Linked DNA regions of Homo sapiens. The protein of the gene in region 1 purifies or fractionates together with the protein of each later gene. This does not show direct contact. Each region holds a gene or a part of one and is shown on either strand. Other genes may lie near its edges.

Region 1 (15,974 bases):
CACTGCACTCCAGCCTGGGCACCATTGAGCACTGAGTGAACCAGACACCGTCTGCAATCCCGGCACCTCCGGAGGCCGAGGCTGGCGGATCACTCGCGGTTAGGAGCTGGAGACCAGCCCGGCCAGCACAGCGAAACCCCGTCTCCACCAGAAAAATACGAAAACCAGTCAGGCGTGGCGGCGCGCGCCTGCAATGGCAGGCACTCCGCAGGCTGAGGCAGGAGAATCAGGCAGGGAGGTTGCAGAGAGCCGACATGGCAGCAGTACAGTCCAGCTTCGGCTGGGCATCAGAGGGAGACCGTGGAAAGAGAGGGAGAGGGAGACCTTGGAGAGGGAAAAGGAGGGGGAGGGGGAGGGGGAGAGGGAGAGGGAGAGGGCCCCAGCTTTATTGTCACAACCTACACATAGCATGTTGTAGGTGCCCTATAAATATGGATGGAATGAATGAATGAATGGAAAAGGACTTTGGATCCCTTTCTTGATCTTTTAATTCTTTATTTAAAAAGCTAAGAAGCTGTTTTTAATACAATATTTAAAAAATGTTGTAAAACCGCAGGACACTTCAAAATGTGATGAATTTTATAGTAAAATCAGGGGCACATAACTTTTCGTACATATATGTGGGTGTAGATAATTTCATGCTACACTAATTAACACACCTTTTAATTAAAGACGTTGAAAAGAAAAAAACCTTTTTGTGTGTGTCCAGGGTACAAGCACAAAATGAGACACCAATGGAAACCATGTATTAGGTATGGAAAATTTTTATGTCATTGAACACTCATGTTTTGATAGAAAAAAGAAAAAATTAGAAATTGCTTTTTGTCCAACCACAAGACCTAAATTATTTACCTTTCTATGTAATACTTATGGTTTCACTTCCTGTTAAAAATGCTCGATTCTATAGCTAATCCTAGATCTCTATAAGCCAATAAATGGATTAACTACAAAGATATGATAAACAATCTTTAATGGCATTTAATCTATTTTTATTAAAATTTGTAGCTACATTATTTAATGTAAGACTTACTAATATTTCTAATCAACTTATACATAAAAAGTTATTTGCTGTAGGTGTCTGCACAATGTGATTGCTAGCAGAATTAAATGCCTCAGGCTGCATCTATCAGACACTGGCCTTTCTGGATGCGTTCCATTTGATCGATAATTTGGGCAGCAAAATCTGATAAATTCTATATTAGAGATAATGACAGAGGGTAACTGTAGCACAGCGGAGGGAACAAGTCTCCAGAGGCAGAAGGGTCAGCTATGCCGAGAACACGTTTGAACTTGAACATTCGGGGACAGAGAAAACAGAGCTGCAAAATGTGAATTCTGTTAACTTGAAATGGTCAAATGGGAATGCCAGGAGTGGGAATGGGAGGGGGGGGTGAGGTGGGGCCGGGTGGGGGTGTCAGAGTAGGAGGCCCGGCGGGCAACTCCAGATTGGGCTTGACTCTTTGGCAGGTAAGAGCTCAGACTGGTGCGGGTCAGTGAGTTATCTGGGAAGACCACGGTGGGGACAGCTACGAGAGTGGCCCGAGGCGCTCGGGTGGGGGCAAGAGTAGGGCCGGAGACCAGTTAGGAGGCTGTGGGAGAAGCGGCAGAGGGCGCCGGGTGCAGGTCCGAACCCAGGGTAGTTTCTGGGGCAGGGCTCCAGGATTTGACTCCGGGCTGGGTACACCCCCACTCCTTAGGGCGCCCGGGCGGTGGTGGGGACTTCGACGCTCGGATGCCCCAGCGACGGCGTCCGGCGGGCGGAGTCGCAGGCGCGGGAGGGGTCCCCGCCGGGCAGCTGCCGAGCACCCCCCTCCTCCCCTCCCCCAACTACGAAGCCTCGCAGAGCGTCCTAACCGTCACCCACGCGGCTCGCGCGGACTGGGCAGCGCCCCGAGCGCCACAGCCGCGAGGAGTGACGGGCGCGGGCAGCTTCCGGCGCCGCAGCCGAGGAGGAGGAGCCGCCCCGCAGCCTCCGCGGGGCCTAGGGGCGAAGAGTGGGGAGCCGCCCCGTCCCAGCCGCCAGGTCGACGTAGGTGGGGCCGCTGCGCCCGCCGGCGCCCCGCGGAGATGTGGCCGGTGTCTTAGGATTAGGTGTTGGTTGCAGGTACAAGCGGGGCGCGGCCCGGGAGACGAGGATGGTGGGGTGGGAGTGGGGTTCTTCTGAGGACCCGGAGCGACTCGTGTTCATTTCTGGAATCTTCCGGTGCCTCGTGTTTGTTCTGCACATGGAAGATGCCCAATAAATTGTTTCTTTACTGGAATGAGCTGCTGTTGTTTTAGGGGATTGCAAGACCCCTGGGGACGGTGGCGCTGAAACCTGGACCTTGAAGAACACAGGGGCCTGCGCAAACTGATTTGATTTGTGGGGAAGAGAATCACCGAGTAACCTGCCCCAACGTGACTGCTGACTCTGTGTCTACCGCGCTGCCGCGAACAGGGGGAGGAGATGGGGAAGACTTGGTGGTAGAGAGGACAGCCTCGCATCCAAGACGGAATGGTGTTAAATGCCGGCGCAAGGGCCCTTTCAGCTTGAGCCCTGTCTTTAAACCACATGTGGGGGTCAGAGCTTTCCCTCATTATCAGCATCAATCAGCAACACAATGAGTTCTGGAAAGTCTCCATCCTTTTCCACAGCACTCTGCTCCAGGCCCCACTCAGGCTGCTCCAGGTTTTGTTTGTGCCTCATGCTGAACTCCAACGTCAGGGGAAAGTAGAAGTGAGGTCGGCTGTTGCCCAGGTTTTTTGACTGGCAACCAGTTCTTGCTGCTTCTCTCAGCAGGAGATTAAGGCGTTGTGGCCGGGTATGGCGGGGGCGTGTGGGGAAAGGACCAGGGCTTCCACATATCCCAGAGACATGCTAGGTAGGACTGTTTCTCTGTGCGGAAGCTCATCAGGTAAGGGTGCAGGAGTGCTGAGAGAGATGTGGTCCTCCTATCTCTGTACTGCGCTCATTGCTTTTAATCTTAGTGCGGTTATCTTACTTGTGTTGTGGGTGAAATGGTTTCCATGCCATAGAGTTAATATTATACTCCCAAAACAAATTGAGGACAGCAATTTATTTGTATGTATGCAAAGCCCTTACTGTTGTTGTGCATTTACAATGAGGACTTAGTTTTATCTAGTATGTTATGAGTGAGCCACTTTAGACCTCCACCATTTATTAAACAGGGCCTCTTGTGATCCACCCGTCCCCCAGCTAGATGGCCCCAAATTATATGGTAGGCTGAGCAGTGGCCACTCAAATATGTCAGGTCCTAATCCCTGAAACCTGTAAATGTTACCTTATAAGGGAAAAGTGCCTTTGCATACGTGATTAAGTAGCTTGAAATGGAGAGATTATCGTGAATTATCTAGGTGGGTCCTAAATGCAAACGCAAAGGTCCTAAGAGAGAGAGAGAAGCAGATTTGATATAGGCCGAAGAGAAGGCAATGTGACCACAGAGGCAGATATTGGAGTGATGTGGCCACAAGTCACCAAATGCCTGGCAACCAGCAGAGCTAGAAGAGGCAAGGAACTGATTCTCTTGCAGAGCCTCCAGAGGGAGGGAGGGAGCCCTGCCAACACCATGCTTTCTTCCCCATGAGACTGATTTTGGATTCCTGGCCTCCAGAATTATGAAAGAATAAGTTGCTATTGTTTTAAGCTACCGAGTTTTGATAATTTGTTATGGAAACTGTAGGGAACTAATACATATGAGCGTGCTCATAAATCACATACATGCTGTACTGATGAATAGTTTACAGGTCTTCAGCTGGGGCAATAGTGGGGTACAGTAGTGGAGATCACTGTATATTTATCTGAATCCTGTAAATCCTAAAGAAAGGATTTGAATAGGGAATTTGGTAAGAAAAGAAATTTAAGTGGTGCATATGAAGGAGGTAGTCTGGCATTTAAAGCAATTTTTTAAGAGTATTCCTATTAATATATCACTATTTGCTCTGGCTAAAAAGAATAAAGGTAAAAAGTGGCAAAGGCTTTGTCCTTACCTTAGCTGAATCATTATTGATTATCCATTGTGTGTATATCAAGTAAGAGTTGCAGACACCTGGGGATTGAGGTCCAGGCCTGGGGAAAAGAGGGAATGCAGAAGTGCTTCCATGTATTAAAATATGGCTAAAAGCAACCGCTAGTCATCTGGAATTAAGATACTTTGGAGTTTTCAGGATACAGGAAAATTCAGTGTTCAAGTTTAATGATTCACTTCTGGGACCCAGGCAGCTAATTTACACTTCCCACTTTCCTTGATATGGTTTGGCTGTATCCCCACCCAAATCTCATCTTGGATTGTAGCTCCCACAATTCCCGTGTGTTGCGGGAGGGACCCAGTGGAAGGTAATTGAATCATGGGGGCAGGTCTTTCCTGTGCTGTTCTCGTGATAGTGAATAAGCCTCACAAGATCTGATGGTTTTATAAAGGGGAGCTCCCCCTGCACAAGCTCTCTCTTGCCTGCCGCCACATAAGACTTCCCTTGCTCTTCCTCCATGATCGTGAGGCCTCCCCAGCCATGTGAAACTGTGAGTCCATTAAACCTCTTTTTTCTTTATAAATTACCCAGTCTTGGGAATGTCTTTATCAGCAGCATGAAAACAGACTAATACACTCCCCACATCTGCTTTCTTTTCAAACTGCTTTATAAGGTATAATTTACATACCATAAAATTCACCTGTTTTAAGTGGACAGTCCAGTGATTTTTAATAAACTTACTGAATTGTACAATCAGCACACAATTCAGTTTTAGAACATTTTCATCATCCAAAAATGATGCCTTGTACCCTTCTGTAGTCAATCCCCATTCCCAACCCCAGCACCATCTGCTTTTAATGACTGGCCTACTTCAGAGTTGGGTTTTAGTCCCTTTGTTGGACTGCTCCAATGGCTTTATAGCTAGCCCCAGCTTCTCCTAGTGTATTCTCTACTCAGCCGCTGGAGGATCATATGCCCTTGATTAAAATCCTCCAGTGCTTTGCGTTGCGTTTAGAATAAGCCCCAAAGTCTTCAGTATGTGGCCTTTTCAAGGCCCCATGAGCTTTACCTCCGCCAACCTCACTGACATCTTCTCAGGATAGTGTAGGAAAGGAAGTGATAAGCACAGTGTTCCTTTTGGCATGACACATAGTTGGCCTCCATTAGAAGCCCTCTCATCCCCACTTAGCTACCCTGCAGCCTCATTAGCCTTCTTCACTGGGAGTCAGTGAACACTGAGCTCTTCTCATTTTTGGGCCTTTGTGATGGCATTTCTTTTAAGAAGTTATCCCTGGCCACTGTGAGGCTGACCCCTTTCTGTCATTCAGTTCAATGCCACCTCCTTAGGAAGGCCTTCCCTCACCTACCCTAACTAGAGGAGCTGTGTTAGTCTGTTTTCATGCTGCTAAGACATACCCGAGAGTGGGAAGAAAAAGAGGTTTAATTGGACTTACAGTTCCACATGGCTGGGAAGGCCTCAGAATCATGGTGGGAGGCAAAAGGCACTTCTTACATGGCGGCAGCAAGAGAAAATTACCTCCCCCTGGGTCGCTCCCATGACACATGGGAATTCTGGGATATACAGTTCAAGTTGAGATTTGGGTGGGGACACAGGCAAACCATATCATTCCACCTGTGGCCCCTCCAAATCTCATGTCCTTACATTTCAAAACCAATCATGCCTTACCAGTAGTCCCCCAAAGTCTTAACTCATTTCAGCATTAATGCAAAAGTCTTCAGTCCAAAGTCTCATCTGAGACGAGCCAAGTCCCTTCTGGCTATGAGCCTGTAAAATCAAAAACAAGCTAGTTACTTCCTAGATACAATGAGGGTACAGGTATTGGGTACATATAGCCATTCTAAATAGGAGAAATTGGCCAAAACAAAGGAGTTACAGGGCCCATGCAAATCCAAAATCCAGCAGGGCAGTCAAATTTTAAAGCTACAAAATGATCTCCTTTGACTCCATGTCTCACATCAAGGTCACGCTGATGCGAGAGATGGGTTCCCATGGTCTTGGGCAGCTCCAACCCCTGTGGCTTTGCAGGGTACAGCCTCTCTCCCAGATGCTTTCATGGGCTGGTGTTGAGTGTCTGCAGCTTTTCAGGTGCACAGTGCAAGGTGTTGGTGGATCTACCATTCTGGGGTCTGGAGGATGGTGGCCCTCTTCTTAACAACTCCATTAGGCAGTGCCCAGTAGGGACTCTGTGTGGGGGTTCCAACCCCACATTTCCCTTCAGCACTGAGCTAGCAGAGGTTCTCCATAACGGTCCCATCCCTACAGCAAACTTTTGCCTGGGCATCCAGGCGTTTCCATACATCTGACATCTAGGCAGAGGTTCCCAAACCTCAATTCTTGAGGCCTGTGCACCTTCAGGCTTAACACCACATGGAAGCTGCCAAGGCTTGGAGTTTCCAGTCTCTGAAGCCACAGCCTGAGCTGCACATTGGCCCCTTTCAGCCATGACTGGAGCAGCTGGGACACAGGGCACGAAGTCCCTAGGCTGCACACAGCACAGGGACCCTGGGCTCAGCCCACAAAACCACTTTTTTCTCCTGGGCCTCTGGGCCTGTGTTGGGGTGGGCTGCCATGAAGGTCTCTGACATGGCCTGGAGACATTTTCCCATGGTCTTGGGGATTAACATTAGACTCTGTAGAGTCCAGCCCCACAGGGTCAGTGGGTTTTCTCCCCGTGTGCGGAGATGAGAGAGTGTAGAAATAAAGAGACAAGACAAAGAGATAAAAGACAGCTGGGCCTGGGGGACCACTACAACCAAGACGCGGAGACCGGTAGTGGCCCCAAATGCCAGGCTGTGCTGATATTTATTGGATACAAGAAAAGGGGCAGGGTAAGGAGTGTGAGCCATCTCCAATGATAGGTAAGGTCACATGGGTCCCATGTCCACTGGACAGGGGGCCGTTCCCTGCCTGGCAGCTGAGGCAGAGAGAGAGAGGAGAGAGAGAGAGACAGCTTACACCATTATTTCTGCTTATCAGAGACTTCTAGTACTTTCACTAATTTGCTACTGCTATCTAAAAGGCAGAGCCAGGTGAACAGGATGGAAGATGAAGGCGGACTAGGAGCATGACCACTGAAGGACAGCATCACAGGGAGACGGTTAGGCCTCTGGATAACTGCAGGCGGGCCTGTCAGGCCCTCCACAAGAGGTGGAGGAGTAGAGTCTTCTCTAAACTCCCCCGGGGAAATTGAGACTCCCTTTCCCGGTCTGCTAAGTAGCGGGTATTTTTCCTTGACACTGACGCTACCACTAGACCACAGTCCACTTGAAAATGGGCGTCTTCCCAGACACTGGCATTACCGTTAGACCAAGGAGCCCTTTGGTGGCCCTGTCCGGGCATAACAGAAGGCTTGCACTCATCTTCTGGTCACTTCTCACTATGTCCCCTCAGCTCCTATCTCTGTATGGCCTGGTTTTTCCTAGGTTATGATTGTAGAGTGAGGATTATTATAATATTGGAATAAAGAATAATTGCTACAAGCTAATGATTAATGATATTCATATATAATCATATCTAAGATCTATATCTAGTATAACTATTCTTATTATTTTGTATATTTTATTATACTGGAACAGCTCATGCCCTCGGTCTCTTGCCTCGGCACCTGGATGGCTTGCCGCCCACAGACTCCTTGCTACTTATGCAAATTTCTGCAGCCGGCTTGAATTTCTCCCCAGAAAATGGATTTTCCTTTTCTATCACATAGTCAGGCTGCAAATTTTCCAAACTTTTATGCTCTGCTTCCCTTATAAAACTGAATGGCTTTAACAGTACCCGGGTCACCTCTCTAATGGTTTGCTGCTTAGAAATTTATCCTGCCAGATACCCTAAATCATCTCTCTCAAGATCAAAGTTCCACAGATCTTTAGAGAAGGGGCAAAATGCTACCAGACTCTTTGCTAAAGCATAGCAAGAGTTTACTATGCTTAAAGTTCTTACATAGCAAGAACTTTACTCTAGTTCCCAACAAGTTCCTCATCTCCATCTGACCACCTCAGCCTGGACCTTATTGTCCATATTGTTATTGGCACCTTGGGCAAAGCCATTCAACAATTCTCTAGGAAGTTCACATTTTCCTGTCTTCATCTGAGCCCTCCAAACTGTTCCAACCTCTGCCTGTTACCCAGTTGCAAAGTCGCGTCCACATTTTCTGGTATCTTTTCAGCAATGCCCCACACTACTGGTACCAATTTACTGTATTAGTCTGTTTTCACGCTGCTGTTAAAGACATACTGAGAAGAAGAAAAAGAGGTTTAATTGGACTTACAGTTCCACACGGCTGGGGAGGTTTCAGAATCATGAAGGAGGCAAAAGGCACTTCTTACTTGGCAGCAGCAAGAGAAAATGAAGAAGCAAAAGCGGAAAACCCTTACAACCCCATCGGATCTCATAAAACTTATTCACTATCACAAGAATAGCACGGGAAAGACCGGCCTCCATGATTCAATTACCTCATCCTGGGTCCCTCCCACACACGTGGGAATTCTGGGAGATACTGTTCAAGTTGAGATTTGGGTGGGGACACAGCCAAACCATATCAGGAGTCTCAACTCCATCTCTCTTTATACCACTGTTCTTTGTTATTTTCTTTATTGTACTTGACAACTCTCCAAAATTATATTTGTGATTTTTTTCCCCTTAATGCCTTTCTTTCCCCATTGGAATATAAATTCATGAGGGTGGAAACTTGATTGGTCTTGATTTTAAACTTAACAGAATATGGTGATTAATTGGATATGGAATTTGAATTGATGAAGATACTTGAAACACCCAAGAAAGAAGGTTTAGTGAGGAGATGAAAAGAGCAGATTTGGGATAAGGTGAATTTAATACGACTGTAAACATATATGCAGAAATGTTAAAGGAAAAAAACTTAGCTGGGAATGGTGGCTTATCCCTGTCCTAGCACTTTGGGAGGCTGGGACAGACAGATCCCTGGAGTTCAGGAGTTCAAGACCAGCCTGCGCAACATGGCAAAACCCCGTCTCTACTAAAAATACAAAAATTAGCCAGGCATGGTGGTGTGCAGCTGTAGTCCCAGCTACTTGGGGGACTGAGGTGGAAGGATCACTTGAGCCACCACTGCACAGCCACCTGGGTGACAAAGTGAGACCCTGTCTCAAAAAAAAGAAAGAAAGAAAAAAGAAAAGTAAAAACTTTATTCTAATTTATCTAGAGCCAAACATTTTTAACAAAATAGCATGAAACTTGCTGGAAGCAGTTTAGAATTGTTCCTATCTGGCTTTGCTGTTGACTGATATCATCTGTGAGAAGTCATCATATTTTAGGTCAGGTTTTTGTTGGATGTTTTCCATGGGAAATCATAGAATGTCCAAACTGGAGAAGATTTTAGAGATTTTTCTAGTCCAACACTCTACCCAAGAAAGAATACCAGTGGCAGTTGCCATTTCAACAAGTGCTCACCCATTCTTATCTTCAACACCTCTCAAGGAAGCCCTCCACATATATATTCAGGGTGCTCTAGTCTTTAGAAAATCCATCTCCACCTTGAACTAAACTCTGTCTCTCTTTACTTCCATTCATTAGTCTGAATTCTGCACATAGAATATATTCATTTTTTTCTTTTCCTTTTTTTTTTTTTTTTTGAGACAAGGTCTCACTCTGTTGCCCAAGCTGGAGTGCAGTGGTGTGATCACGGCTCACTGCAGCCTCAACCTCCTGGGCTGAGGTTATACTCCCACCTCGGCCTCCTGAGGAGCTGGGACTACAGGTATGGACCACCATACCCAGCTAATTTTTAAAATTTTTTGTAGAGACGGGATCTCACTATATTGTCCAGGCTGGTCTCAAACTCCTGAGCTCAAGCAATTATCCCTCCTTGGCCTCCCAAAGTGCTGGGATTACAGGCTCATTCATTTTTTTAAATGTGGAAAAACTGCTTACATTCCACCGAGATATTCCAAAAATCTTGGTGGTTTATCATTTCGGTATACCTGCTTACAATATATAGATAGACCTGTTTTGACTCACCAGACAGAAGTTTCTCTACCCAATTACTTCTCTAACCAAGCACAAGTGATGTTGCCTGGTCAAGAGCATTTCCAAACAGTGAAGAGCAGTTAAAATGGTCAGAAGATATTTAGCTGGTCTATTTAAGTCAGTTTGGACTGTACCTGGAGAAAGGCCAGGTCTGAGAATATTGATATTAGGTCATATGTGCCTGTAGGTTTACTTGCTACATTATCTTGATAGTGCCAATGAGATCTGTGCCACTAAAATTAAAATTGGGCCAATAGCATATAATTAAACACATTTTGTTGTAAAAACATGATTTAGATAAGTGCTATAGGCTATTTTTTTCTTTTCTTTGAGATGGAGTCTCGTTCTGTCACCCAGGCTGGAGTGTAGTGGCACAATCTCGGCTCACTGCAATATCTGCCTCCCATGTCAAGCAATTCTCCTGCCTCAGCCTCCCAAGTAGCTGGGATTACAGGCACATGCCACCATGGCCAGCTAATTTTTGTATTTTTAGTAGAGACGGGGTTTCCCCATGTTGGTCTTGAATTCCTGGCCTCAAGTGATGCGCCCACCTCAGCTTCCCAAAATACTGGGATAACAGTCATGAGCCACCATGCCCGGCCACTATAGGCTATTTTTAAAAAAATTTTTTGTAGAGGCAAGGTCTTACTATGTGGCCTAGGCTGATCTCAAACTCCTGGCCTCAAGCAGTCTTCCTTCCTCAGCCTCCCAAAGTGTTGGGATTACAGGTATTAGCCACCATGCCTGGCCTGCTCTAGGCTCTTAAAATGTACTTTCACATAAAAGGAAAAAATAACACTTCTTGTTGCCATTGTTATATGTGTGTTTTACATATTGTCAAGGTCTTAAGTGATGAACATGAATTTGTAAATTGAACTTTTGAAATAATAAATTTCAGTTAATGAAATATATATAAATGAACAGATTTTAAATATTTTGTTTTTTCAGATATTAATAGAATAAGTGAAAATAAGAATATCCAGAAGTTAAGGTAACTTTTATTTTACTTGTAGTTATATTTAAGAATTGTGAACATATACAACTGATAATACTATTTTATCTGTATCTATATCTGATTTATTTTAGAAAACCTGAAGCCTTGAATTTGATGGATGCCTAGGCCAGAATATAAATATATCGTAGGCCTACAATATAAAAGCTGCAAGAGCTTTATCTTTGTGGTTTTCAGACTATGTTCAGTGGGGCCCTCTGTGTTCCATAGAGGTGTCTCTGGGGCAGAGAGGAGGGTGTGTGGCGCTTAGATTTAAAGAAACATTTCCACTGCTTAAGAAGGGTTTGAAAAACACAACTGTAATTTCATTTAGTAAGGATGGAAATTGAGACTCAGAGATATGAAAAGGTCTGCCCATGCTCTCACAGTTAACCAATGACAGAATTAAGTTTCCTGATTCTAAGTTCTGTGCATCTTCCATATTGCCTCCCTGCTAGATGGTATTATGTATGGGTGAAATGCGATCGTAAGTAGCTTAATTCCGTATTACATTATAATAGTCCCTGTGTTTAGTCAATGCAGATTAAACCCACTTTCTTTTGTTAGTGGGCCTATATGAAACTCAATATTGCTCTTTATTATGGGAAAATGAGTTAGTTTACATACACTGCTTAAGTTATAAAGATAGTATTGGGATTTTGGGGTGCTTTTTTTGGTTTTTGTTTTTTTGAGATGGAGTCTTGCTCTGTCACCCAGGCTGGAGTGCAGTGGTGATCATGGCTGATTACAGCCTTGAACTCTTGGGCTCAAGGGATCCTCCCACCTCACCCTTCCACGTAGCTGGGACTACAGGCAAGTACCACCATGCCCGGCTAATTTTTTCATTTTTTGTAAAGACAGAGTCTCACTCTGTTGACCAGGCTGGTCTCTAAATCCTGGGCTCAAGTGATCCGCCCACCTTTGCTTCCCAAAGTGTTGAGATTACAGGCGTGAGCCACTGTGCCCTGCCAGATAGTATTGTTATTCATGTTATTGCTGTCCAATTATCTGGTACCTTGTATGTGTTGAGGCAGTTACTATGTAGGAAGGCCGCAGTTACTATGTAGGAAGGCCTGCACGTGAGTTATCTCAGTTAACTCTTATTCTTTTGAGGTATACACTCTTTTACCTTTTAAGCTGTATACTTTTTATCTCCCTCGTATAGTCATAGAGAGGTTAAATATTGTTCTCAAGGTGGCACAGCTAGTAGATCACAGAGCTAGGATTACAACATCCAGAGACTTGAAAGAGTGTGATTGAGAAAACAGACACTGAGAGCATGTGAAGTTAATAAGCAGCTAACAGCAATTCAGGTAGTACAATACTGTTCAACATGAATGGTTCTCCTTATTGTGTTTCTGAGATTGTACCAGCCCAGTATGTTTCTTTGAATCAGTCCCGAGGTACCTCAGAATTTCCCAAGGAAAACATACCTGCAGACTGGTTCTAGAAGAATGTAGATCAGTTCTGTAAGATCCCCAGTCTCAGGTTTCTGTGGAAGGTAGGGTGGTTCATCAACCTAGGAGCTTGAGTCAGTTGAAGAATCCAGGAATCTAAATAGAACATACATCATAAGTCATCTGTACGCAATCAAAATAGAACTTGGGCCAGGCCTGGTGGTTCACGCCTGTAATCCCAGCACTTTGGGAGGCTGAGGTGGGTGGATCACTTGAGGCCAGGAGTTCAAGACCAGCCTGGCCAACATGGTGAAACCCCATCTCTACTAAAAATACAAAAATTAGTTGGGCAAGGTGCCACATGCCTGTAATCCCAGCTACTCAGGAGGCTGAGGTGGGAGGATTGCTTGAACATGGGAGGTGGAGGTTGCAGTGAGCCAAGATTGTGCCACTGCACTCCAGCCTGGACGACAGAGCAAGACTCTGTCTCAAAACAAAAAAAAGGGATTCTAAATCAGTTATTCATTCTATGATAGTCACAGGAGAGGTCCACCTTAAGTAGTAGCCATACAAAAAGAAATCAAGGTGAGGATTATTCATACTAGGAAAAGTATAAGTGCACATCCACCAGGGCCTTTCGACTCCAAGGAGCAGGAGTCAGAACCCAGGAGGTACTTTTAAACGCTTTATCTCAGCTATATAACAAAGCCTAAGGCTTTAGGGAATTTTCCTCCAAAAGTTCCCTCTTTGTGGTCTGTGGTTTCTTAGACCTTTTTTTTTTTGGCAACATTCCAATCAAATAACTAGAGTAGAATAGATACACAGATATTACTTTTTATTTTTATTTTTATTTATTTATTTTTTGAGACAGTCTCGCTCTGTCACCCAGGCTGGAGTGCAGTGGCGTGATCTCCGCTCACTGCAAGCTCCACCTCCCGGGTTCACGCCATTCTCCTGCCTCAGCCTCCCGAATAGCTGGGAATACAGGCGCCCGCCACCACACCTGGCTAATTTTTTGTATTTTTAGTAGAGACGAGGTTTCACCATGTTAGCCAGGATGGTCTCTATCTCCTGACCGCATGATCCGCCTGCCTCAGCCTCCCACAGTGCTGGGATTACAGGTGTAAGCCACTGCTCCCGGCCTAGATACTACTTTTTAAAAATGTAAGGCTCCTTTTAATGTGAACCTGTTCATAATTTTAAATCAGGCAGAACTGTTCATAATAGACCTTCGGCATGTCAGAAGAGGCCAAGATCTCACCTCTGTATTTTACTCAGAGATTTAAAATAAACACATGTAAGTTCATGTTATGATCCCCAATTCAACCAAGTGCAGAGTTTTTTTTTTAACAATTTTATGATTTATTGAAGCAAAAAACCTTGCTTTTTCTAGAAATCTTTAATCATTTCATAAGCTTTATGCCTGAAAATAGGAAAAATATTTCAATTCCTATAGTGTCACAAAAGTAGAGAAACACTGATGACTTGACCAAATTCAGGATATATGGTCAGTCTAAAATAGTGAAAATGAATTACAAATATTATTTAAATGCAGATTTTCATTACTCTAAAATACACACACAAAATAACTACCAGCATTGGCAACAGAGATACTAAGCATCCTCTTTACAAATAAACAGTTGTTTTAAAATTCTTGTTGAAACCCCATCAAAAAGTGGGCAAAGGATATGAACAGACACTTCTCAAAAGAAGACATTTATGCAGCCAAAAGACACGTGAAAAAATGCTCATCATCACTGGCCGTCAGAAATGCAAATCAAAACCACAATGAGATACCATCTCACACCAGTTAGAATGGCGATCATTAAAAAGTCAGGAAACAACAGGTGCTGGAGAGGATGTGGAGAAATAGGAACACTTTTACACTGTTGGTGGGACTGTAAACTAGTTCAGCCATTGTGGAAGACAATGTGGCAATTCCTCAGAGATCTAGATCTAGAAATACCATTTGACCCAGCCATCCCATTACTGGGTATATATGCAAAGGATTATAAATCATGCGGCTATAAAGACACATGAACACGTGTTTTTATTGCGGCACTATTCACAATAGCAAAGACTTGGAACCAACCCAAATGTCCAACAATGATAGACTGGATTAAGAAAATGTGGCACATATACGCCATGGAATACTGTGCAGCCATAAAAAATGATGAGTTCATGCCCTTTGTAGGGACGTGGATGAAGCTGGAAACCATCATTCTCAGCAAACTATCACAAGGACAAAAAACCAAACACCGCATGTTCTCACTCATAGGTGGGAATTGAACAATGAGAACACATGAACACAGGAAGGGGAACATCACACACCAGGGCCTGTTGTGGGGTGGGGGGAGCGGGGAGGGATAGCATTAGGAGATATACCTAATGTAAATGACAAGTTAATGGGTGCAGCTCACCAACATAGCACATGTGTACATATGTAACAAACCTGCACGTTGTGCACATGTACCCTAGAACTTAAAGTATAATAAAAAAATATATATATATATACATATATGTATATAAAGAAGTGAAACTCCTGACTACTCTGGGCACACTGCTTATGGGGTAGCCCTGCTGCACAAGGAGCAGTAAAAAATAATAATAATAAAATTTTTTAATTAAAAATTTAAAAAAACAACTCTTGTTTAAGTGAATAAACCTATGCTGTCTTCTGTAAACTACTAATTTTCTAAGAAAAAAATTCCCCTTTGAAGGACTGCTGCTTTCCAACAGCCTGTTATGAATAACACAAGCATTCATAGTGAGTTATGATGAATAACGCAAGCATTCATCATCTTACGTCGAAGTAGACAAGTGTGGTTTCCACATCAGAATATTCTAAAGCCAAACCTTCCTCTTTCTTCTTTTCTCTACTCTCTAACTCCTATTTTCAATTCTGCTTACCTTGATCTTAGATTCTGTTTCCTGCTTAATACTAAAGTCTTTGATAGTGAATTACTATATGATTTGCCAGTATTTGGTTGTGGTTCTATATCTGTCCTACTCATTCCTTTATGCTTCTGATTGATCTCTAATTCATGATAACATTACTCAGCAATTTGAACTTTCTTAGTGTCATTCATTATCCTGAAGAATCCCAAAATGTATCATGTTAGTGTATCAGTAAAGTTATACAACAAACATTCACAATGAAACTCGTTTAAATGAGAAGGCATCCTTCTTGTACACAGCATAGAGTCGTTTTTTATAAGCCAATTTGAAAATCCTTTTCTTTCAATAGGCAAGGTTTTTTTTTCCTCAAGTAGCAGTCTCTTCTATTTAGAACATTTAAATTGCCTAGCAATCTTGACTAACATTCTATTTGTTATAATTCTTTATGGAATATCTCCCTACCTACTACTTACTTCCTAAAAAACGATAGCACGAAGCATATTAAGGTAGATATGTTCTATCGTTAATTGTAGTTTTGACAGGTGGCATCTCAGTAATCAAAAGGAAGAAAATGTGAGTGAAATAAAAATGAATTCCGTTTAATAAAAACTGTTAAGCTCAGGGTTTTTTTAAATTTTTAGAGACTTTATGCTTACAATCATGAATTAATGTAAAAATGATAAGCAGCGTGTTACATGAT
Region 2 (16,458 bases), on another chromosome or scaffold:
AGACTCTGTCTCAGAAAAAAAAAGTCACCAAGGAAATAATACCAAAAAATTTCCCAGAAAAAAATACAGTATTGAAAAATCCATAGACATCCATCTGTTTTCCATACCAAAAAATATTTTGCTAACATTCTGGAACATTGTCTTTAAGAAAAGGTCTTTCTTTCCCAGAAAGAAACAGTGAGGCACATACAGTGATGGGGAATAATAATGGAACCAACACAAGAACTGGTGGATGGAGGATAAATACTAAAAAATCAGAGGATTGTCAACCTCTAATTCTATACAAATATGAATCTGTAATCAGCCTACTCATTCAAACACAAAGATAAAATAAAGATCCTCAAACATTTTATGCCCAATAAACTTCTTCTCCAAAAGGTACTGGAGGACAGACCCCAGCAAAAACAAGTACAACAAGAAAGAGAAAGACATGGGACTCGGTAAACAGTGATGAAAATAGGAGTTAGTGGATAAATCAAGAGAACAGTAATAAAAGATTATTTGGAACATGGAAATCCTTCTGTAGAGAAAGAAGGTCTCAGGTCAATGCAGAATCGACACCACACCAAATGGGGGAGGGTGATACATTTTGTTGAAAGGATTCATAAATTTCCTTAAGGAATTAATCAGCAAGTTGAATGGGAAGACACGATATAGAACTGAAGAAAGTTACAATGTATATCACTGAGATGAGATCTTATTATGCAAATTAAAAACCTATAGAAATCCAAGGATATAGAAAGGAAAGCTTGTGGAAGAGGTGATGGCTGAGTTGGACCATGAAGCACCTAGAAGACGAGGATGACAGGCAGGGGAAGCAGGGCCTCCAGGTGCATGGAGCAGCCTGGGCAAAGGCATGGACATGAGGCTGACTCAGCCACCTGGAGGACAAAGATGCCCACATTCCTGCTGGCACCTTGCCAGGCTGGGGCTACACTCCCTGTTTGCTGAGTATGAGGCTCACGAATGCTACTGGTCATTCATCACAAGAGCAAATGTGTGCAGGTATTTCTCTAGCACTTGGCAGTACTGACATCAAAGGTAAGTAATCCTTTTTCTGTGGGATCTGTCCTTTGCATTGTAGGAGGTTCAGCAGTACCCCTGGCCTCTGTCCCCTGGGTGCTGATAGTACCCTACCACCATCCAGCTGTGACACCCAAAACTGTCCAGACTGATGTCTTTGGGAATAGGGAGGAGATGGGAGTAGGTGTGCCCTAGTTGACAATCGCTGCTCTACAGTGGAAAACTTTATGTCGGTTCTCCTATGTGACTCTTGCAATGGCCCTAAGGCAGGCATTCACAACTTTGGGATCACCACAGTTACCAGAAAAACGAATGGGGCATTGAAAAGAAAAAAAAGTCATGAACTTAATGGAGAAGATGTTAGTGTAAATATCTAATGAACCAAATCAGTTGTTACATGGGTACAGGATTAAGCTTTTCACCACACATTATAGGGAAATGTCAAGTTAAGTAAAGTTCATAGTTTTGGTTAAGGAGCCAAGGAGAATTAGCCAGGGGCTGACACCTGACCTCGGCTCTGCTTCCTAATCCAGCTCCATCTCCCAACTCATTAGATGAATCCAGGTCAGATCATATCGTGGTAATCGTCATTTTTTGAGAAACAGATCACTGGGCTGGCGTGGTGGCTCATGCCTGTAATCCCAGCAGTTTGGGAGGCCGAGGTGGGTGGATCACTTGAGGTCAGGAGTTCAAGACCAGACTGACCAACATGGCAAAACCCCATCTCTACTAAGAATACAAAAATTAGCTGGCCGTGGTGGTGCACACCTGTATTCCCAGCTACTTGGCTGAGGCATGAGAATCGCTTGAATCCAGGAGGCGGAGGTTGCAGTGAGCTGAGATGGAGATTGAGCCACTGAACTCCAGCCTGGGTGACAGAGTGAGACTCTGTCTCAAAAAAAAAGGAACACTGAGGTGGCCCCACCCCAAGCTGGCACAGCCTCCAACTACCTCCTTCCCTTGCCTGTCTCCTCCCACCCTGACCCCAAAGCCCTCATCCAAGAAAGTACAACATTAGTGTTAGTGCCCAGGATGTCACCCAGATGTGTGGTTAGTGTTGTGTGTAATCCCTGCCTTTACTAAAGATTCAAATGTCAATGAGTGCCTCTTTTTAGATAGACCTTGTACTAAAACATGAGAGATATCATCAGTGAACTCTTGTAAAGCACCAAATTTTGGCCCAGAAAATAAATTACAAAATTATTGATTAAGCACTTATTGTATGATGTTGTCATACAGAAGCAGGACATGCAGAGAGGCCATGTTCTCCAGGAGCATGAACAGAGAGGACAGGTCAGCTCCAGGGGATGTCAGGTCGGAGCTGCCCACGGAGAGCCACAGGTCCCTGGGAAAGGGGAGATCCAGGGAGTTGGAGGGGCCAGCAAAGAACACAAGGTGTGAGCTGCTTTGATGTGGCTTCCAGAATGAATGAAGCGTTTCAACCCAGAGTGACTAAGGCAAGGCAGTGGAGACCACAGGGAGCAGAGTAAAATTGTTCAATTACTGTAAGGTAAAATTGCAAAGTAAACGTAAATTATTTCAATAATTTCTCAAGCAGAAAACTGCGGGTCTTGTGCAGAAATCCACACGGAGTTCCCACAGGGCAGCAGTGGGTGTCAAGGTCACCAGGATCCACCTGAACCATGGTGTGCAGGCTTCTCAGTGTCCAGCCAAGGAGGGAAATAGTGTTGACAGCAGCTTGTGGAGGCAGAACACCTGGCTTCATATCCTGTTTCTGCCACTTCCCAGCTGTGTCCCAAAAAGTTCTATGGAATCTCTGTGTCCTTTCTCCTGTAGCTGGGGTGAAATGATCTGCCCACTTCACAGGGTGGTGATCACACATCCAGTTTGCTCAGGACAGGCCTGGTTTACATTGTTATCCTGGCATCCCACCCATTTAGGGTTCCCTTTTATTCTCCAAAGTGCCCCTCATTTACAATCAATAGCATGGTCACCCTGCTCATAGGATGATGGCTGTGAGATTCAAAGGGGCTTACAACAGTGCCCGTCATTTAGGAACTGGTGTAGAATTGTTTTTCATTCATATTTTATTGAACATTTCCTGAAAGTTGCTAAACAATGAGATCTTAAATGTTCTTATCACAAAAAAAACAAGTGTGTGAGATGATGGTGTGTTAATTAGCTTGAATTAATCATTTCAGAATGCATATATACATCAAAACATATAAACCATAAATAAATATAATTTTTATTTGTCAATTTACCTTAGTAAAGCTGGGTAAAAAATTAAAAAATGTATGTAAACATGTTCAATAAATTGGAACTGGTTTCTGGGAAGATTAATATGGTAATACTAAGTAGAAGATGCTTGGGTGATAAGTTATTTGTAAATTATTTCAATAAAACTCTGAGGCTAGTCGTGGTAGTTCATGCCTATAATCCCAGCACTTTGGGAGGCCAAGGTGGGCGGATCACTTGACCCCAGGAGTTCGAGACCAGCCTGAGCAACATGGCGAAACTCTGTCTCTACCAAAAATACAAAAATATAGCTGGGCGTGGTGGTGTGCGCCTGTAATCTCGGCTACTGGAAAGGCTGAGGCAGGAGGATCGCTTGAACTCAGGAGGCAGAGGGTGCAGTGAGCCAAGATGGCACCACTGCACTCCAGCTGGGGCGACAGAGCAAGACCCTGTTCCAAAAAAAAAAAAAAATCATAAAACCAAAAAACCTCTGAGGAAAGGGGAACGCTGAAAAAAAATCAAATACACATGGATCAAAACACAGAACTTTGTTTTCAAACTTAAAAGTTTTAGCTTATATCTGAATAGTTACTCAAATATTTTAGAGAATATTATGTGGAAGCCGAGTTTCAGTAGTGTCGAACAGTCCTAGTGGTCCTTGGAGTTTACCATAAATACATTTTTTTATTATTCAAAAATAATGGCTACCAGCTGACATCTGGATAGCACCTGCTTTGTGCCAAGCACTGTTCTCAGGACTTTCCACTTTTTACTTGTGAATCACAGCAATTCTATGACTGTTCCCATTTTAAAGGGAACACACAGCATTAAGTCTCCTGTCCAATGTGGCAGTCAGCAAACGGAGGAGCTGTGATGTGAACACAAGTGGTGGTCAGGCTCCGAGTCCTCACTCACCACCCACCTGCCATCCAACCCTTACGAGAAAGGGCTGCAGAACCTGCAGAGATGGGACCCAGCAGTGCAACACAGCGGCGCTCAGCAGAGCTGCAGCTTCTCAGGCCCTCCCTTCCCAGATCCTTCCTGGGAGTCTTGGGAATGTCCAGCTGGGATGGGACTGCCCCATGGAATAAGGGATTTTATCCTTTCCTTACTTTTCAATCATCTGACTCCTCTGGGAGTCACCTCCGGCATCTTCTGAATTTATCCATCTTTAACCTACCTCTCCCTACCCACAGCCTCCCCTCAACCTCTGAGCCAGAGGACGTTTCTCCCACTTAAGGGAAAGCACCCTTTCCCTCCTTTGGCCTTCCAGAGCCCTTCATCCATCTCTCTCTGCACCTCTCCTTTCCCGTCCGGGCTTATAGTCTCCTGTGTGTGTCTCCCCAGGCCTCTCAGAGGTACAGAGGGTCACAGGTCTCTTCTGACAATTGAGTGAGTATGAAAAACGCACCACCGTCACGTGCATCTTGGGTGTGTGTGTAAGGGGAAGGGGGTTCTTCCTTGGTTGCTGTAGACTCCCCATGGAAGCTACAGCCTCTCCTTTCCTCAGCCCCATTTCAGAAAGGAGAGGCCAGAAAGCGTTTCTGATGCTTGTGGTCTCTTTAGAGGATTCACCCTGTTCCCTTCACTCAATCCCAACCCCGTGTCACCAGATGTATTCACCCCTACGCAGGGGGAGGTCAGTCTTTGCAAGCTTCTGACACATTTTGGGACACTGAGCTGGAATATGGGGGTGCTGGGGTGGATTGAACACTGAGCAACTCAGACTTGGAATCCCAGCATGAGGCTCGGGCGCGAGGGAGGCGCTGGGTCTAGACGAGGCCTTGGTGACTTGAACAACAGGCATATTGCTGCCAACAAAGATGGCTCCAAGACCAGAGGCCTTTCCTGAAGTTCTGTTCTGTGTAAGAAGGTGACTGACAAGGCAGGGCCACAAGGACTGGGGCACCAGGCAGAGCCCCAATAAGTACTGGCCAAGGAGACACTCTCACATTTCATAATCAAGGTCCTTCACTACCCTTGGGAAACAAGGCCACCAGCCAGGGTCAGCTGTGTACAGTGGTAAGTAAACAACACTTCTCCTTTCTGTCCTCCCCAAAATTAGGTTTGTTCTTGGCCACTGAGGCTCCACCTGAATGGTGGAAAGAAACATGTCGCAAGTAATCCAGAGAGAAAACAATGCATTCACAGGGAATTAACAATGGATTCATTCCTCTGGCTGTTTCATCGACTTCTTTTTTTTTCTTTTTTCTTTTTTTACCTGAGCCAACTTTGTTTTTCTTGTTCCTATGACCTTCACTGTGCCCCTAATTAAACAGGGATGGGCTTTCTATCATGTGAGGCTGTCCCGTCCTTTTCCTGATTCTATGTGGCCACGTTCCTTCCCTTCCTTACCTTGCCAGTGCCATCTGTCCTCAAGCTTCTGTACTTGCAGTTCCCTCTCCCTGGAATTCTCTTCCCCAGATGTGTCCTTGGACATCACCATCCACTCATCCAAGTCTCAGCTGAAACAGCACCTGCTCCTACAGGCTGCCTTGGGGGGCTTACAGGCCACTGCCCCTGGGCAGGCCATCTATGACAGCATTCAGCTGTTGTGAATATTTTGTTGTTCTTTGCAGCAATGACCACTTTCTCATACCTCTGATATATCTTTAGTCTTGTTCTTTGTGTCCTTCATTAGAAAATAAGGTCCACAGGAGCAAGCACCTGGTCTAACCTGTTTCTATAACTGAATCTAGTGCAAGGCCCAGCTCACAGGAGAAGCAAAACAGTGATGCGTACAACAAGGGATCCACGCATGAATGCAACTGCCATTTATTCAGAATTATCTCATGCTTGGCTGCGTGATTAAAAATTTACAGAGCGTCGGCCGGGAGCGGTGGCTCAAACCTATAATCCCAGCACTTTGGGAGGCCAAGGTGGGTGGATCACGAGGTCAGGAGTTTGAGACCAGCCTGGCCAACATGGTGAAACCCCCATCTCTACTAAAAATACAAAATAAATAAATAAATAAATAAATAAATAAATAAATAAATAAATAAAAATTAGCTGGGCGTGGTGGTGCACACCTGTAATCCCAGCTACTCAGGAGACTGAGGCAGGATAATCGCTTGAACCCGGGAAGGCTGAGGTTGCAGTGAGTTGAGATCACGCCACTGCACTCCAGCCTGGGCAATAAGAGTGAGACTCCATCTCAAAAAAAAAAATTTACAGAGTATCTCTCATCTTTACAAAAATTCACGGCCAGGCGGGCACGGTGGCTCACACCTGTAATCTCAGCACTTTGGGAGGCCGAGGTGGGTGGATCACCTGAGGTCAGGAGTTCGAGACCAGCCTGGCCAACATGGAGAAACTCCGTCTCTACTAAAAATACGAAAATTAGCCGGGCCTCGTGCCACATGCCTGTAATCCCAGCTACTCAGAAGGTTGAGGCAGGAGAATCGCTTGAACTCGGGAGGCGGAGGTTGCAGTGAGCCAAGATCGTGCCACTGAACTCCAGCCTGGGCAACAGGGCAAGACTCTGTCTCGAAAAAAAAAAAAATTCAGCATCACTTATACCCGTTTCACAAAGACAGAAAGGAAGCCCAGAGGGACCAGCATTGTAATTTGCCCAAAGACACAGCATGAGTACGTGTGGCCTCCAGGATCCACACCCACACCTGCCCAAATCTTATCACCTAAATCTCATCATCACCCAACCCCATTGCCACCCACTGCCTAGCACTGCCTGCCCAAGCAGTCAGTTACTCCACTCACTCACAGCATCCTCTCAGTCAGTGGATAGAAAACCGTAAAAGGCTAACAAAGAACTAAGCACAAATTAAATTATAAATATATTGTAAAATAAATTTGTAAAGTTGAATTAACTTAGTGTTGTAATTCTTAACAAGAATAACAAGAAGCTTTCAGTAGAGGTTAGATATTAATGTTTTCCCCAAAACTTAAAGCACTTTTCGGGGCTGGGCATGGTGGCTCACGCCTGTAATCCCAGCACTTTGGGAGGCTGAGTGAGGTGGATCTCCTGAGGTCAGAAGTTCGAGACCAGCCTGGCCAAAATGGTGAAACCCTGTCTCTACTAAAAATACAAAAATTAGCCAGGTGTCCTGGCGCATGCCTGTAATCCCAGCTACCCAGGAGGCTGAGGCAGGAGAATTTCTGGAACCCGGGAGGCGGAGGCTGCAGTGAGCCAAGATCGCACCACTGCACTCCAGCCTGGGCAATAGAGTGAGACTCTGTCTCAAAACAACAACAACAACAGCAACAAAACCCCAAAAAACAAAAACAAAAAAACCCGCTTTTCTGAAAAAGAAATGTCTATGGATTAGGAAGGTCTGCCTCCCATAGGAAGATGCAGGTATTGCACATAGCCCAAATATTTGATGATTCCAGGACCGGCAGATACACAAGTTATGAAACTGTTTGTACCTTGAAGAATAACGAGAAGAGGAGGAGACCAAGAGGAATAGAAGAAAAAGAATAGAAGGAGGAGGAGGAAGAAGGGAAGGAGGACTAGAAGAAAACTACAATAATAACAACATTGTTGAGACCACAAGATCACGCCACTGGGTTTTGCTTTATATTTTGGAAAACACTGTCACATCCATTTTACTAAAAGCCATGTATCATTATTGTAGTCCCCAGATTGTCAGGGATCCAAATATTACTGCCTTCTTGGTTTCTACAAACAGAGCACAGGCTGGCTGTGTTCCCATTGGTGTACACTATTGTGTCCTGGTCCCATGCCAGGTTGACACATTGCCTCATTCCTGGGAGGGACTAAGGTGCCTCCCTGGGGAATAAATAGAGCAGGGCTGGGTACTCACCTCCACAGCAACTTCCTTGATCCCTGCCACGCACGACTGAACACAGACAGCAGCCGCCTCGCCATGAAGCTGCTGATGGTCCTCATGCTGGCGGCCCTCCTCCTGCACTGCTATGCAGGTGAGTTCTGGGCAGAGAGGGCTGCTTCTGGGCTAGGAATTGTCACCTGGGCCCCTGTAGAAGAACTCCCAACCTCTAATCCCCAGCACAGACGAGCCCCAGTGTGAAGGGCCTGGGTGCGATAGGCCTTAGGATCCCCATGAGTTCCTGACAATCAAGCATGCAGTGTCCTCATGGGCTGTCCCCTGCATTGGAGCTGCACACAGTGTATCATGGCACTCAGCGTCTCACCATGGTCACGGTGACCATAGAAACCAGGATGAGTCTCAGGATTAAATATTGAAATGAACTATTTCAGTGGGGCAAGGGAGAGATGGCATCTACACCTAGAAATCAGGAAATAATCATGGGTCTCCTTGAATATGGAACGAAATAGGAAACCTCCCAGGACAGAAGGCCCAGGCTGCAGAGTGTGACCCAGTGTCTCTCACCCTGTGTGGCTCACTCTGTGTTCTCAGAGTTGATCTGGGTCCTTCTGGGATGCCCTTACCCTCCCAGTTGCTTCAGGCTCAAGGCAGACAGGTGAGAACTCACAACCCCTGGAGTCTCCTTCCAGCACTAAAGATTCAGTGGGAGGAAAAAGCCCCGGCTGCTGGAATCAGCGCTAATATTTCCATAGGTAGCCTGCCTTGTGCAGTTCACAAAGGTGGATTCCAAACCCTACCGTATTGGCATCCAAGGTAGGTGCAGATGTGTAGAAGGGTGACAAGCTCACAGTCAACTAACTGGAAAATCACAAAGTCCAGAGCACAACCAGCTCACATGAAGCCACGTCCTGAGCTCGTTCCTCTCCCTTACAGTGGGAGGTGACCTCAGATCCCCTCATGAACAAGCTCTATTTCACATTCATGTGTGTGTGTGTGTGTGTGTGTGTGTGTGTGTGTGTGTGTGTTTGAGACAGGGTCTTGCTCTGTCACCCAGGCTGGGACTGGGACTGGTGTGCAATGGCACAGTCTCAGCTCACTGCAACCTCTTCCTCGAAGGCTCAAGTAATGCTCCTGCCTCAGCCTCCCGAGTAGCTGGGACTACAGGTGGACACCACTATGCCTGGCTAATTTTTAAATTTTTTGTAGAGATGAGGTCTCCCTGTGTTGTCCAGGCTGGTCTTAAACTCCTGAGCTCAAGCAATTCGCCTGCCTTGGCCTCCCTAAGTGCTGGGATTACAGGCGTGAGCCACCATACCTGGCCACACATTCCCTTTTATTGCAGTAGAGTCAACAGAACTAATGGACAATGTCCTAGACCCATTCATCTGAAATCCTTGGAAACCCTACCTGATGCTGGGCATGATAACAGGGAAGCATTGCATGACTTTGAACCAAGAAAGTCCAAGTAGTGTTTGCTATGTCCCCCCAGTCAGAACACCTCATTTCTCGAGGGTCCTCTTCACCAAGAATACACAGGGTTGGGCTTCTCTGGGTTTGGAAGGTCAGAGAGAATTTGCAGAGCCTGAGTTTACACTCCCAGAATTGAGAACTCTGCATACTGCACCAAAATCTTTCTGAACCTCGGTCTGTCCCTGGAGGTACGAAGATAGCCAGCTTCCCAATTCATCTGTAGAATGAATCACACCTCTAGTAATGGCCCATGTTCTTGTGTCTTTTTTTTTTTTTTTTTTTTTTCCAGATTCTGGCTGCAAACTCCTGGAGGACATGGTTGAAAAGACCATCAATTCCGACATATCTATACCTGAATACAAAGAGCTTCTTCAAGAGTTCATAGACAGTGATGCCGCTGCAGAGGCTATGGGGAAATTCAAGCAGTGTTTCCTCAACCAGTCACATAGAACTCTGAAAAACTTTGGACTGATGATGGTAATTTGGGTTTCTTCTTATGTACCCTTTGAAAATCACTGATCAGAACCAGCGGGCTCTAAATTTGGCACCAAGAATGCCAAGCAACTGGTGAACAAACTTTCTTTATATATCAATTCATTAAACTTTGTCTCCAGGCTGCTTTGCCACTTCACATTGAGAATCTTTAGGGAGTGATAAATGGAAAAGGCAAAAAGGAGAAAAGAAAGCCTTAGAGATCACCCGTCTACCTCTGACCTCACCAGTCCCTTCTCACACAGACACAGACACACATAAGCACACAAGTATAGACACACACAGACACACGGGGACAGGCATCGGCATTTTTTTTTTTTTTTTTGAGACGGAGTTTCGCTCTGTCACTCAGGCTGGAGTGTAGTGGCGTGAATCTCGGCTCACTGCAACCTCCACCTCCCGGGTTCAAGAGATTTGCCTGCCTCCACCTCCCGAGTAGTTGGGATTACAGGTGTGCGCCACCACGCCGGGCTAATTTTTGTATTTTAACTAGAGAAGGAGTTTCACCATGTTGGCCAGGCTGGTCTCAAACTCCTAACCTCAAGTGATCTGCCTCCCTTGGCCTCCCAGAGTTCTGAGATTACAGGTCTGAGCCCCCGCACCCAGCCAGAACATGCACATTTTTATCAAGAGAAAATATCTGGTTCTCAAGAGATCACACACTTGTAGGAGCAATCTACTAAGAAATTTCCTACTTTCACAAAAACAAATATTCAAAACATTCTTATTTTTTTTTATCTAGCTCAGAAAATACAATTTGTGCAAATTCTGCATTTTCTAAAATAAAGAAAAAAATTTTTTTGAGATGGAGTTTCACTCTGTTGCCCAGGCTGGAGTGCAGTGGCATGATCTTCGTTCACTGCAACCTCTGCCTCCTGGGATCAAGCAATTCTTGTGCCTCAGACTCTCAGGTAGCTGGGACTACAGGCATGTACCACCATGCCCAGCTAATTTTTGTATTTTTAGTAGAGATGAGATTTTACCATGTTGGCCAGGCTGGTCTTGAACTCCTGACCTCAGGTGATCTGCCCGCCTCGGCCTCCCAAAGTGCTGGGATTACAGGTGTGAGCCACTGCTCCCGGCCTAAAATAAAGAATTTAAAATGCAAGTCCAAGCAACCAAGATTTGTTAGCATACATGACTGGAAGTCATGCACCACTTAATTAAGTGCCTCATGAAGTGGGAAGTGCAGATTATGGGTATGAAACAGCACGAGTGCTAGAATTGTTTAAAACAAAAGTCAGTGGTTATAACAAGGAGTATTTCTGTCTGTTTATAAAGATGTGTTGGTTACGAGTTTTGTTTTTTGTTTTTCGTTTTTTTCGAGATGGAGTTTAGCTCTTGTTGCTCAGGCTGGAGTGCAATGGCACGATCTCGGCTCACTACAATCTCCGGCTCCTGAGTTCAAGTGATTCTCCTGCCTCAGTCTTCGGAGTAGCTGGAATTACTGGCACACAACACCACAGCCTGCTAATTTTTGTATTTTAAGTAGAGATGGGGTTTCACCATGTTGGCCAGGCTGGTCTCAAACTCCTGACCTCAGGTGATCTGCCCGCTTCAGCCTCCCAAAGTGCTGGGATTACATTTTTTTTTTAAGAATTTATTTAATACCCTAAAATTTTATTTAAAACATTCCATAATAAAAAATGTAAAGATATATCAAATGCTCAAGGATAAAAATAAATATTAACTGCAATTTGGGATGGTTGAATCATTTTTTTCTTTAAAAACTCAGATTAGCCAGGTGCATCCCTCATACCTGTAATCCCAGCACTTTAGGAGGCCAAGGCGGGCAGATCACTTGAGGTCAGGAGTTCAAGACCAGCCTGGCCAACATGCTGAAACCCTGTCTCTACTAAAAATACAAAAATTAGCTAGGCGTGGTGGCGCACACCTGTAATTCCAGCTGCTTGGGTGGCTGAGGCAGAAGAATTACTTGAAGCCAGGAGGCAGAGATTGCAGTGAGCCAAGATAGTGCCACCGCACTCCAGCCTGGGCAACAGAGTAAGACTCCATCTCAAAAACAAACAAACAAACAAAAATCCTAAACAAACCAAAAAAACCCCTCAGATTAATCATTCATATTGTAAAACTCCAGTGTTTCTTGTTTCCGTTTTTTTGTCTTTGTTTTTGTTTTTGAGACAGAGTCTTGCTCTTTTGCCCAGGCTGGAATGCAGTGGTACAATCACAGCTCACTGCAGCCTCCATCTCCTGGGCTCAAGTGATCCTCCCGCTTCAGCCTCCTGAGTAGCTGCGACTACAGGTGCACACTAACACACCTGGCATATATATACATATATATACACACACACATATATACACACATATGTACACACATATGTACACATATGTACACATATATGTGCACATATACATGCATATATGTACACATATATGCACATATATACATATATACACACATATATACATATATACACATATATACACATATATACATATATACACATATATACACATATATATATATATATTTTTTTTTTTGTAGAGATGGCATTTTGTCATATTGTCCAGGCTGGTTTAAACTCCTGGGGTCAAGCAATCTGCCCTCCTTGGCTTCCCAAAGTGCTGGGATTACAGGCATGAGCCATCCCACCCAGCCCAGCTCCAATATTTCATAGGCCTCAAAGGTAATGGTGAAGAGTCTCAGACTGTTACAACATTTCTACCTTTTATGCCTGTGCAGCAACTCAAAACCATCACATTCTTGTATCTGAGCTGAGATTTTTTAATAATTCTGTGTTGTAAAAGTGGTATCAGAAACAGTCCAAATGATCAGGTCTTCAACAAATAGTATATGCAGCATATTTATTGGATAAGTTATTTCAAAGGATAGAATTTTTGGAGAAAAAAAGTATTACATGGATCACTGGTAGGGAAGAGATCCTACAACCCTGGCCCCTGTTTGGCATTATGAAGTGTCTCCTAGATAACAGAATAAATGGAGAGGGGATGCTGGCTTTGCTTCCACTGCAAATCCTCCTGAGAGTTAGCTGTTTGTGGACAAATGCAAGAAAACAAGAAGACAAGTTTTAATATTTGATTTAATAAGTGAAATTTGCAAACCTAAGTGACCTGCTTTTGTTTTCCAGCATACAGTGTACGACAGCATTTGGTGTAATATGAAGAGTAATTAACTTTACCCAAGGCGTTTGGCTCAGAGGGCTACAGACTATGGCCAGAACTCATCTGTTGATTGCTAGAAACCACTTTTCTTTCTTGTGTTGTCTTTTTATGTGGAAACTGCTAGACAACTGTTGAAACCTCAAATTCATTTCCATTTCAATAAACTAACTGCAAATCACTAAAATTCTTTCTTGTTCTTCTATAAAAAAAGAAGCTTTCCAGGCTGCACAGTCAGGCTGTAGGTTGCAGACAGAGACAAGCCTCGAAGGAGTTGAGTGAGGGTCCGAGGTTTCTGGGAAATACTTTATTTCTCATCATCTCGAGCCCAAGAGTTGGACTTCTCTCTCTCTGCAGAACAAAGTATTAGCTCTTGTTGCTTAGCTAATTTTTCTCTGAAGAGTGTTTCACTCTCCACATCCCACTACCTCCCTAAGCCACTTTCTCTGGGGACCTCACACTCTTGGAGTCATGCTCAGAAGCCCTGATTTTACCCCAGTCCCATCCATGCTGAGCCCTGCTGGTTATGCCAGGCTCCTCTGGGTTGTCTTTGGGCCTCCCCAACGTGTGCAGGGCCCAGACCAGAGCCAGCCAGGGAGGGGAGGCCTGCAAAGCAAGGTGGATCCTGTCTGGATTTTAAATTTTGAGTTTTATTTGTCGTTCATGGATGTTGGCATTAATTTTGAACTTTTAAAATATTGCATGAAAATATTACTTACCCTGATGACTGAGTTTGCTAGCATAGCGACACCTTAAATTGTGCAACTTTTCTCAGTCCAGTCTCTGCCAGTGGGTCCATCCTCCCCTGCCCCACAGTGAGCTGCAAAGGCAATGAGGGTTGAGGGGAGTGAGTGTGCTATGCAGGGACCCAGCACAGAAGGGGATGTTTAAATGGAACCGGGGTCTCCATCGTGTCCTGTCCCCAGCACTCCTGTCACCAGGGTTAGGTTATTGCCTGTCCCTTTTCCTTCTGGGGCTATCCCCTCACCCAGGAAGACCCTGTCTATGTGTCTGGACAACTCAGCTTCACCAGGGCCGACTCTTCCATCAGGCAAGGCAAGGGCAGGGATCCAGGCCCACAATATACATAGGGGTGTATGAAAATGTTATAATTTAAAGAATAATTTCCTGAAGTGATTGTAATATTAATGAACATATACCAATGAATCTAGCCTGAATTCTATACTTCGTCTTACCAATACAGTTGTAAAGTATGTTTAAAATGTTCTTATGAAGAAGTGGCCTATGAAGGCAATGTAATACCTGTGACCTACAAAAGCCATGCAACAGATGATAAAATATTGCTGTTTTATTTGGACTCAGAGACCTATCCTCAAACCCTCAATCTTCTGGCCAAAGTTTAGGTCAAATAAGGATGTGATGTGTCAACTTGTAATTCAATATGTAAATGACAAAAATCTAGTTTCTCAAGAAGAGCTGGACTATATTCTTTTTTAGAGACAGAGACCTATTCTCCTTTTTCCCTGAAAGACAATTAGGAAAAAACTCAATCAAAAACCCCAAAATAAAGAGTCAGAAAAGCCAGTTCTCATGCCTAAAGACTCCAGCACATGGGATCCCCTAGACCATCTTCCCCTGCTGAATGCTCTTAACCCTTCCCCTCAGACAGCCCTTCTGTCCCAGATCCTGCCCCAGATCCCTCCCTTGCTCACATTATTCCTCCTCCTTACAATCCAGATTCCTGGGAATCATCATCCCATGAGCCTATTTCTTCTCAGCCCATGTAGCCTATTTCTTCTCAGCCCATGTATCCTTCCCTAAAAAGACTCCAGCATTAGAAAAAACAATATAAAAAGGATATTCAAAATTTCCCATTTCCCTCCACACCTAAGGAGTCAGCCCCAACTCTCTTCCCCTTAAAAGAGGTGCCACAAGGAGATGGAACTACTGACTTTGTAAATACTCCCTTAACCAGTTTGGAGGTCTAAAGTTTGAAGAAGAAACTTAAGCCATTGTTATATGACACTTACAGAGTGACAGATCAGGTTGATCAGTTTTTGAGACCTCGGTTACACACTTGGGTCGAGTTAATGTCCATCCTAGACATCCTCTTTTCAGGGAAGGAAAAAAACATGATCCCTAGGGCTGCTATGGCAATTTAAAAATGTAAATATCCTCCCGGTCAAACATTCCTAATGCAGATCGAAAGTTTTCCACCCAAGACCCCCGGGGTAGGGAAAAGAAAGAGATCAGACTGTTACTGTGTCTATGCAGAAAGGGAAGACATAAGAAACTCCATTTTGACCTGTACCCTGAACAATTGCTTTGCCCTGAGATGCTGTTAATCTGTAATTTTCCCCAACCTTGAGCTCACAAAAACATGTGTTGTATGGAATCAAGGTTTAAGGGATCTAGGGCTGTGCAGGATGTGCCTTGTTAACAAAATGTTTACAGGCAGTATGGTTGGTAGAAGTCATCACCATTCTCCAGTCTTGATAAACCAGGGGCACAATGCACTGTGGAAAGCCACAGGGACCTCTGTCCTGGAAAGCCAGGTATATCCAAGGTTTCTCCCCATGTGATAGTCTGAAATATGGCCTCGTGGGATGGCAAAGACCTGACTGTCCCCCAGCCCGACACCCGGGAAGGGTCTGTTCTGAGGAGGATTAGTAAAAGAGGAAAGCCTTTGCAGTTGAGATAGAGAAAGGCCACTGTCTCCTGCCCCTGGAACTGAATGTCTCAGTATAAAACCCGATTGTACATTTGTTCAATTCTGAGATAGGAGAAAAAGGGAAAAACTGCCCTGTGGCGGGAGGTGAGACATGTTGGCAGCAATGCTGCTTTATTATTCTTTACTCCACTGAGATGTTCGGGTGGAGAGAAACATAAATCTGGCCTACGTGCACATCCAGGCATAGTACCTTCCCTTGAACTTACTTGTAACACAGATTCCTTGCTCATATGTTTTCTTGCTGACCTTCTCCCCACTATCACCCTGCTCTCCTACCACATTCCTCTTGCTGAGATAGTGAAAATGGTAATCAATAAATAATGAGGGAACTCAGAGAACGGTGCTGGTGCAGGTCCTCCGTATGCTGAGTGCCGGTCCCCTGGGCCCACTGTTCTTTCTCTATACTTTGTCTCCGTGTCTTATTTCTTTTCTCAGTCTCTCATCCCACCTACGAGAAATACCCACAGGTGTGGAGGGGTTGGCCCCCTTCAGCCCGGTAAGACAATAATAGCACAGCTCACAGGGAAAATATACAAGACCTAAGAAAAATGATAGTAAAGAAAATTAGAGAATCAGTACCCCAAACCCAAAACCTCTCTAAAACACTTGATATACAACAAGAAAAAGATGAAGGGCCTATGAAATTTCTAGACAGACTAAAGGATCAAATGA

Evidence for each region.
Region 2: the proteins of CCDC158 (region 1) and SCGB2A1 purify together in Homo sapiens (affinity purification with mass spectrometry; 3 studies listed by BioGRID and IntAct, with this or other methods). This does not show direct contact.

Annotation. Positions count from the first base shown.
Region 1 is NC_000004.12:76,407,095-76,423,068, reverse strand, and holds the start of CCDC158 (coiled-coil domain-containing protein 158), read left to right. Parts: upstream 1-1,927; 5' UTR 1,928-2,104; exon of another isoform or gene 2,105-2,894; intron 2,895-8,704; exon of another isoform or gene 8,705-8,808; intron 8,809-10,936; 5' UTR 10,937-10,979; intron 10,980-15,752; exon of another isoform or gene 15,753-15,847; intron 15,848-15,974.
Region 2 is NC_000011.10:62,200,663-62,217,120, forward strand, and holds SCGB2A1 (mammaglobin-B precursor), read left to right. Parts: upstream 1-8,010; 5' UTR 8,011-8,069; coding exon 8,070-8,124; intron 8,125-9,750; coding exon 9,751-9,938; intron 9,939-13,063; coding exon 13,064-13,108; 3' UTR 13,109-13,281; downstream 13,282-16,458. UniProt on the Homo sapiens protein: May bind androgens and other steroids, may also bind estramustine, a chemotherapeutic agent used for prostate cancer. May be under transcriptional regulation of steroid hormones.